2 linked regions of the Homo sapiens genome follow. The protein of the gene in region 1 interacts with the protein of each later gene in a biochemical or structural test. Each region holds a gene or a part of one and is shown on either strand. Other genes may lie near its edges.

Region 1 (4,024 bases):
CTATAGTTGGATTGATCTGCCATGCTGTTCAGGATGGACTGGGAAGTTGAAAAAGGAAGTTGCAGAATTGGTGGGTATGGTAAAGACTCATTTGGTCAAATGAAGGCTGGGTGTAATTGTAATAAAGATAGACACATTTGGCTTGGTGCAGTGGCTCACACCTGTAATCCCAGCACCTTGGGAGGCCGAGGTGGGTGGATCACGAGGTCAGGAGTTCAAGACAAGCCTGGCCAACATAATGAAACCCCATCTCTACTAAAAAAAAATACAAAAAAGTTAGCCTGGCATGGTGGTGCATGCCTGTAGTCCCAGCTACTCGGGAGGCTGAGGCAGGAGAATCACTTGAACCCCAGAGGTGGAGGTTGCAGTGAGCCAAGATCACGCCACTGCACTCCAGCTTGGGCAACAGAGTGAGACTTTGTCTCAAAAAGAAAAAAAAAAAGACACATTTTTCCTCTGGGATGCTTCATTATAACAAACCTTTGACAGTCGGGAAAGGAGACTTGCTTTTTTTTTTTTGAGACAGAGTCTTACTCTGTTGCCCAGGCTGGAGTGCAATGGCGAGTTCTCGGCTCACTGCAACCTCCGCCTCCCAGGTTCAAGCAATTCTCCTGCCTCAGCCTCCTGAGTAGCTGGGATTACAGGCATCCGCCACCACACCCAGCTAATTTTTGTATTTTTAGTAGAGATGAGGTTTCACCATGTTGGTCAGGCTGGTCTCGAACTCCTGACCTCAGGTGATCCACCCACCTTGGCCTCCCAGAGTCCTGGGATTACAGGCATGAGCCACCACACCCAGCCAAGACTTGCTTTTTCTAACCTCTTTTGTCACACGCCTGTGAGGGAGGGTTGAGAAGTTGAACAACTTATTTTATTTCTTTCTGTATTGATGGAAATTTTCCCATGGCAGTTTATTTAAAGAAAAAGTAGGGCCAGGCACAGTTGCTCACATCTGTAATCCCAGCACTTTGGGAGGCAGAGGCAAGAGGATTGCTTGAGGCCAGGAGTATAATACCAGCCTGGGCAACATAACAAGACCCTGCCTTTAACAAAAATTTAAAAATTAGCCAGCTGTGGTGGTGTGTACCTATAGTCCTGGCTGCTTAGGAGGCTGAGGCGGGAGAATTGCTTGAGCCCAGGAATTTGAAGCTGCAGTGAGCTATGATCATACTCCTACATTCCAGGTCGAGCAACAGAGCGAGACCCTGTCGTTAAAACAAAACTAAAAAATACCCAGCAAGGTGCAGTGGCTCTTGTATAATCCCAGCATTTTGGAAGGGTGAATCGGATCACTGCAGGCCAGGAGTTCAAGACTAGCTTGGGCAACCTAGACCCTGTCTCTTTTTTGTTTGTTTGTTTTTTGAGACAGAGTCTCTCTCTTTCACCCAGGCTGGAGTGCAATGGCCTGATCTCGGTTCACTGCAACCTCCGCCTCCCAGGTTCAAGCGATTCTCCTGCCTCAGCCTCCCGAGTAGCTGGGATTACAGGTACCTGCCACCACACCCAGCTAATTTTTGTGTTTTTAGTAGAGATGGAGTTTCACCATGTTGGCTAGGCTGGTCTCGAACTCCTGACTTCATAATCTGTCCACCTCAGCCTCCCAAAGTGCTGGGATTATAGGCGTGAGCCACCGTGCCCAGCCTATTTTTTTTTTTTAATTAAAAAATAATTTATAGTCTGGGTGCTGTGGCTCACACCTGTAGTCCTAGCACTTTGGGAGGCCGAGGTGGGCGGATCACTTCAGGTCAGGAGTTTGAGACCAGCCTGGCCTACATGGCAAAACCCGTCTCTACTAAAAATACAAACAAAATTAGCCAGGAGTAGTGGCAGGCGCCCATAATTCCAGCTACTCAGGAGACTGAGGCAGCAGTATCATTTGAACCCATGAGGTGGAGGTTACTGAGAGCTGAGATGGCGCCACTGCACTCCAGCCTGGGTGACAGAGCGAGACTCTGTCTCAAAAAAAAAAAAAAAATTTATAACTGGGCATGGTGGTGCATGCCGGTAGTCCCAGTTACTTGGGAGGCTGAGGCAGGAGAATCGCTTGAACCCGGGAGGTGGAGGTTTCAGTAAGCTGAGATAGCACCACTGCATGCCAGCCTGGGTGACAGAGCAAGATTCCATCTCCAAAAAAAAAAAAAAAAAAATTAAAAGAAAATTGCTGGATCTTATTAGTGTATAGTAATTTTTTATTGATGTGTGGGAAATTATTCCAAAATTTAGCAACTAGAAGCAACAATCACCGTCTCTTTATGTGGGGAATTTGCAGTGGCTGTGTTTGGTGTAGTGGCTCTGATATTCTAAGGTTGCAGTCAAGATGTTGGCTAAGGATGTGGTCATTTGAAGGCTTCATGGGGGTTGGAGGGTCTGCTTTGAAGATGGCTCACTAGCAGTGCTGCCTTTGGGAGGCACAGACAGTTCGAGTGTCCTCATGACAAGGCAGCTTATTTCTCCCAGAGTGAGTGATCCAATAGAGAGTAAGGCAGATGCCTGGAGGTCTTTTGTGACCTAATATCAGGATTCACATTCTTTCTTTTTTTTATTTTTATTTTTTTGAGACAGAGTTTCACTCTTGTCACCCAGGCCAGAGTACAATGGCGTGATCTTGGCTCACTGCAACCTCCGGTCCCCGGCTCAAGCGATTCTCCTGCCTTAGCCTCCTGAGTAGCTGGGATTACAGGTGCCCGCCACCATGCCCGCCTTTTTTTTTTTTTTTTTTTTTTTAAATTTTTTTAGTAGAGATGGGGTTTCACCATTTTGGCCAGGCTGGTCTTGAACTCCTGATCTCAAGTGATCCGCCTGCCTTGCCCTCCCAAAATGCTGGGATTACAGGGTGAACCACCACGCCCGGCTACACTCTTTGATTTCTATAATACCCCGTTGGTGTTACAGATCAGCTCTGGTCATCATGGGAAGGGACTGCATCAGTGGGTTAATGCCAGGAGACAAGGACCACTGGTCACCATCTTAGAAGGTGGGGGACTATCATAGTCCCGCTTCTGGCGCCTAGTGATTGATTTTGTTCCTTCCACACACAGATACCCCACTCACTTTCTCCTAAGTCCATATTCTGTTACAGTATTAGAAGTCTGTTAGAAGTCTAGAACCTCATTTTGTCAAGTACAGGTGTAGTAGTACCTGCATTTCCTTTAGTACAGTTCCTTTCAATCTGAAGACATGAGAATTTAAAGAGACAAATTACCCCTCACACACCCAGCATACAATGGTGAGGTGGGCATGGGATGACTGGTATGTATGGGATAATTATTTCTTTTCTTTTCTTTCTTTTTTCTTTTTTTCTTTGTTTTTTTTTTTTTTGAGGTAGGGTCTCACACTGTCGCCCAGGCTGGAGTGCAGTGGTGCAGTCACTGCTCACTGCAGCCTCGAACTCCTGGGCTCAAGCAATTCCCCACCTCAACCTTCTAAGTTGCTGGGACTACAGGCACATGTCACCATGCCTGGCTACTTTTTTATTTTTTGTAGAGATGACGTCTTGCTATGTTGCCCAGGCTAGTTTTAAACTCTTGGCCTCAAGTGATCCTCCTGCCTCAGTTTCCCAGTAAGTGCTGGGATTATAGGCATGAGCCACTGAGTCCGGCCTGCATATTTAGGTTTTTATTATGACCACACTGTACTTCTGATACCAAAATCTGTATTAGTTATCTATCATTGTATAACAAATGACATCAAAACTTGGGTTAAAACAGCAATACACTTTTTTTTTTTTTTTTAAGACGGAGTCTTGCTCTGTCGCCCAGGCTAGAGTGCAATGGCGTGATCTCCACTCACTGCAACCTCTGCCTCCTGGATTTAAGCAATTCTCCTGCCTCAGCCTCCCGAGTAGCTGAGATTACAGGCACACGCCACCATGCCTGGATAATTTTTGTATTTTTTTTTTTTAGCAGAGACGGGGTTTCACCATGTTGACTAGGCTGGTCTCGAACTCCTGACCTTGTGATCTGCCTGCCTTGGTCTCCCAAAGTGCCAGGATTACAGGTGTGAGCCACCATGCCCGGCCTAGCAG
Region 2 (3,500 bases), on another chromosome or scaffold:
TTTCACATATATTATGTATAATTCCCCCAACAATTCTATGAGGTATATGCTGTTATTATAAGACCTATTGTATGGATGAGGAAACTAAAGCACAGGGATGTTAAGTGACTTTCCCAAGGTCACACAGAAACTAAATGGCAGAGCCAAGTGGCAGTGTCATTCAAAACCAGGGCACAAAATGTCCTAAGTTCACCTTGTACTTTCCCTGCACCAGGTCTGGAAACAGACATTTCACCAACGATTCCTAGTTCACGTTATTGGGCAATGATATTTAGAAGCCAAGCTGTATACTGGCTGAGTGTGCTCATTACCACTAGGGTGTCTCTGCCCTTTTGATGGATAGAATTAGGGCATACTCTATGATTTTTTTCCACTTTATTTTGTTCTCTACAAAAGATATCTGGTCAGAGTACAGTGTGTTTAAGTTCTCAAAATCTTTAAGGAGTCACGTTGTTAATTTGTAGTATATTTTGCTTTTTTGTGTTTATTTTTTGAATTTGTGAAACATTTACATGGTTCCAAATTACATATAAAAGCATTCTTTTGGGAGACCAAGGTGGGATCACTTGAGCCCAGGAGTTTGCGACCAGCCTTAGCAACAGAGGGAGGCCCCATCTCTGCAAAATATAAATATAAAAAACATTAGCCGGGCATGATGTCATGTGCCTGTAATCCCAGCTACTCAGAAGGCTGAGGTGGGAGGATCGCTTGAGCGCAGGAGTTTGGGGCTGCAGTGAGCTACTACTGGGCCACTGCACTCCAGCCAGGATGACAGAGTGAGACTCTGTCTCTTTAAAAAAAAAAAAAAAAGTATACTTAGAATCATGCTTCCATTCTTATCCTCTTCAGTCAGTTCTCCCTGACCCCCCTAGACGGCTTGATAGTCTATTTTAACATGTGGGGGAACTAGACCCTCCTTATTGCTCTCCTATTTCAGGGTTAGTGAAGATTGTTAAAACTGGAAGCCCTCTGTGTAAAAGAGTACAGTGAAGCAAATATGCATACACACTGCCCATGGGAATGTACACTTACAGGACTGCTTTGGAAGTTAGGTAGATTTTACTATAAACCATAAAAATCTTTGCAATTTTTGATTTGACAGTGCTGAAGTAACTCATACAAAGATACATACAAAAATATTCATCACAATTTTTTTTTTTTTTTGAGACAGAGTCTTGCTCTGTTGCCCAGGCTGGAGTGCAGTGGCATGATCATGGCTCCCTGCAACCTCGACCTCCCAGGTTCAAGCAATTCTAATGCCTCAGCCTCCCAAGTAGCTGGGATTACAGGCTTGTGCCACCATGCTCAGCTAATTTTTGTATTTTTAGTAGAGACAGGATTTTGCCATGTTACCCAGGCTGGTCTCGAACTCCTGGGCTCAAGTGATCCGCCTGCCCTGGCCACCCAAAATGCTGGGATTTCGTGCATGAGCCACCACGCCCGGCCCTCATTATAATGTTTTTTTTGCGTGGTGAAAATTTTAAAACAGTTTCAGTGTCCATCTTTAGCCATTGAAACGGTATATTGGTATATTCAGAGAATATTCATTGACATTGTTAAGGTTCTAACAATACAATAGGTGAAAGAAAGCATTGTACAAAAAGTAATGTGTTTTGTACATAGGGAAAAGACAAGAAAATTCATAAAAATGTTAAGGCAGCATTTTTCATTTTCTTTGTACTTTTTATGCCGCCTTTATTATGGGCTGGCAAGTGGTTGTGTTGTGTTATTTTTTAATTTGAAGAATTTTTTTTACAAAGTCTAATCTTTTCTATTGTGTAAGAATCTGGAAGGTAGAAGTAGTAAAAATGATAGCCCTTGCCATTCTTTTTCATTGTGCATTAAAAATGTAAGCATTTTTTTCTTTTTTTTGAGAGAAGGTCTTGCTCTGTCACCCAGGCTGGAGTGCAGTGGCATGATGATGGCTCACTGTAGCCTTGACCTCCTGGGCTCAAGCAATCCTCCCACCTTAGCCTCCTGAGTAGGTGGGACTACAGGTGTGCACCACCATTCCCAGCTAATTTTTGTATTTTTTTTTTTGGTAGAGATGGGGTTTCCCCATGTTACCGAGGCTCATCTCAAACTCTTGAGCTCAAGCTGTCTACCCACCTCAGCCTCCAAAAGTGCTGGGGTTACAGATATGAGCCACTGCGCCTGGCCTATTTCTTAATATATAAGTTACTAAACTAATATCGCTATCCTTTGAATAGCTAACATTCCATAATTGATTTAGGGTTATAGTCCAAAGTTTACAGATTAGTTTCTGGGTGTCTTACCTCCATTCTTCAGATGGCTGCTTTTTTTTTTTTTTTTTTTTTTTCTGTTTTCTTGAGGACAAGTATTAGAAAGCCAAGTGCAGAATATATCTTCCATAGAAGCCGGCTTTTGTTATGGTAACTTCCCTCAAATGGGGTAGGTGTGATGGTACTCACCTTCATAAACATTTTTCTTTTTTAGCATCTCAAAGACAAATTTTGGAATTTTATTTTCTACAAGTTCATTTTCATCTTTGGTGTGCTGAATGTCCAGACAGTGGAAGAGGTGGTCATGTGGTGCCTCTGGTTTGCCGGACTTGTCTTTCTGCACCTGATGGTTCAGCTCTGCAAGGATCGATTTGAATATGTGAGTTTTTAGCCAAGCTTTTTGCTTGCTTAGTCACCACGTTTGCCAACTTTGAATTGTGTAATGTGAATGAGCCACAGCAGGCATGGTCAGGGTAGCTCTTCTGGGAAGACTTCTAGATCAGGCCCCCATTGCCTGTTTCTTGAAGAACTTTCTACAGCAGCCAAGAGATGCAGAATCGTTGTCTCCTGGGGAGCTTTCTTCCCAACCCCATAGTGTTTACTTACTGCTAACATGGGGTCACTTCACCTATGCAGACTGTTTTGTTCACAGTGCAAGGAAACCTTGATACATAAACAATAAAATCTGGTCTTTTCTAGATATTTTCTGTTCTAGTCTCCTTCTGTCTCTCCCAGCTTACTCTGGTTCGTGGAGCTCTTCTTTCTGAGTAGTTTATACTATTTCCACCCCGGGCCAGGACTGAATTAGCTCCCTCAGCTTCCTTGTTTGCGAAGTGAATCATTTTATGTCTGGTACAAGATCTGTCACTTGGTTTCAGATCATAGCTGTATGAGTGAACCTTCAACCCATTAGTGACCTGAAGTAGTCTCATGAGTCCCAGATAAATGTGCATCTACAGTGCTGCCCCTCAGTTAAACCCGCTCCAGGGCCTTGTTTTTCCCTGTCTTTACCCAGTCCACATGGACCTTGCACCTTGGTTTGAGTTAATCTCACTCTCACAGCCTTTATTTCTTTCACATTCAACCCTCATTTGAAGTCACAAACAGGAGCTTCTAACCTCCCAAACTGTTTTTTTTAATCTCCGCCTGTGACCTCAGGAGTTGCAGCTCTAGGCCTTCTTTTCAGACTGTTGCCTCTCCTTGCATAATGCTGACATCACGTTGTAGTAGTGGTAAACCTGTGCCTGGATTGCATTT

What was found.
Region 2: the proteins of GPI (region 1) and AMFR form a complex in vitro, tested with the Homo sapiens proteins (one study listed by BioGRID).

Annotation. Positions count from the first base shown.
Region 1 is NC_000019.10:34,371,430-34,375,453, forward strand, and holds part of GPI (glucose-6-phosphate isomerase), read left to right. Parts: intron 1-4,024. UniProt on the Homo sapiens protein: In the cytoplasm, catalyzes the conversion of glucose-6-phosphate to fructose-6-phosphate, the second step in glycolysis, and the reverse reaction during gluconeogenesis.
Region 2 is NC_000016.10:56,408,546-56,412,045, reverse strand, and holds part of AMFR (E3 ubiquitin-protein ligase AMFR), read left to right. Parts: intron 1-2,457; coding exon 2,458-2,622; intron 2,623-3,500. UniProt on the Homo sapiens protein: E3 ubiquitin-protein ligase that mediates the polyubiquitination of lysine and cysteine residues on target proteins, such as CD3D, CYP3A4, CFTR, INSIG1, SOAT2/ACAT2 and APOB for proteasomal degradation.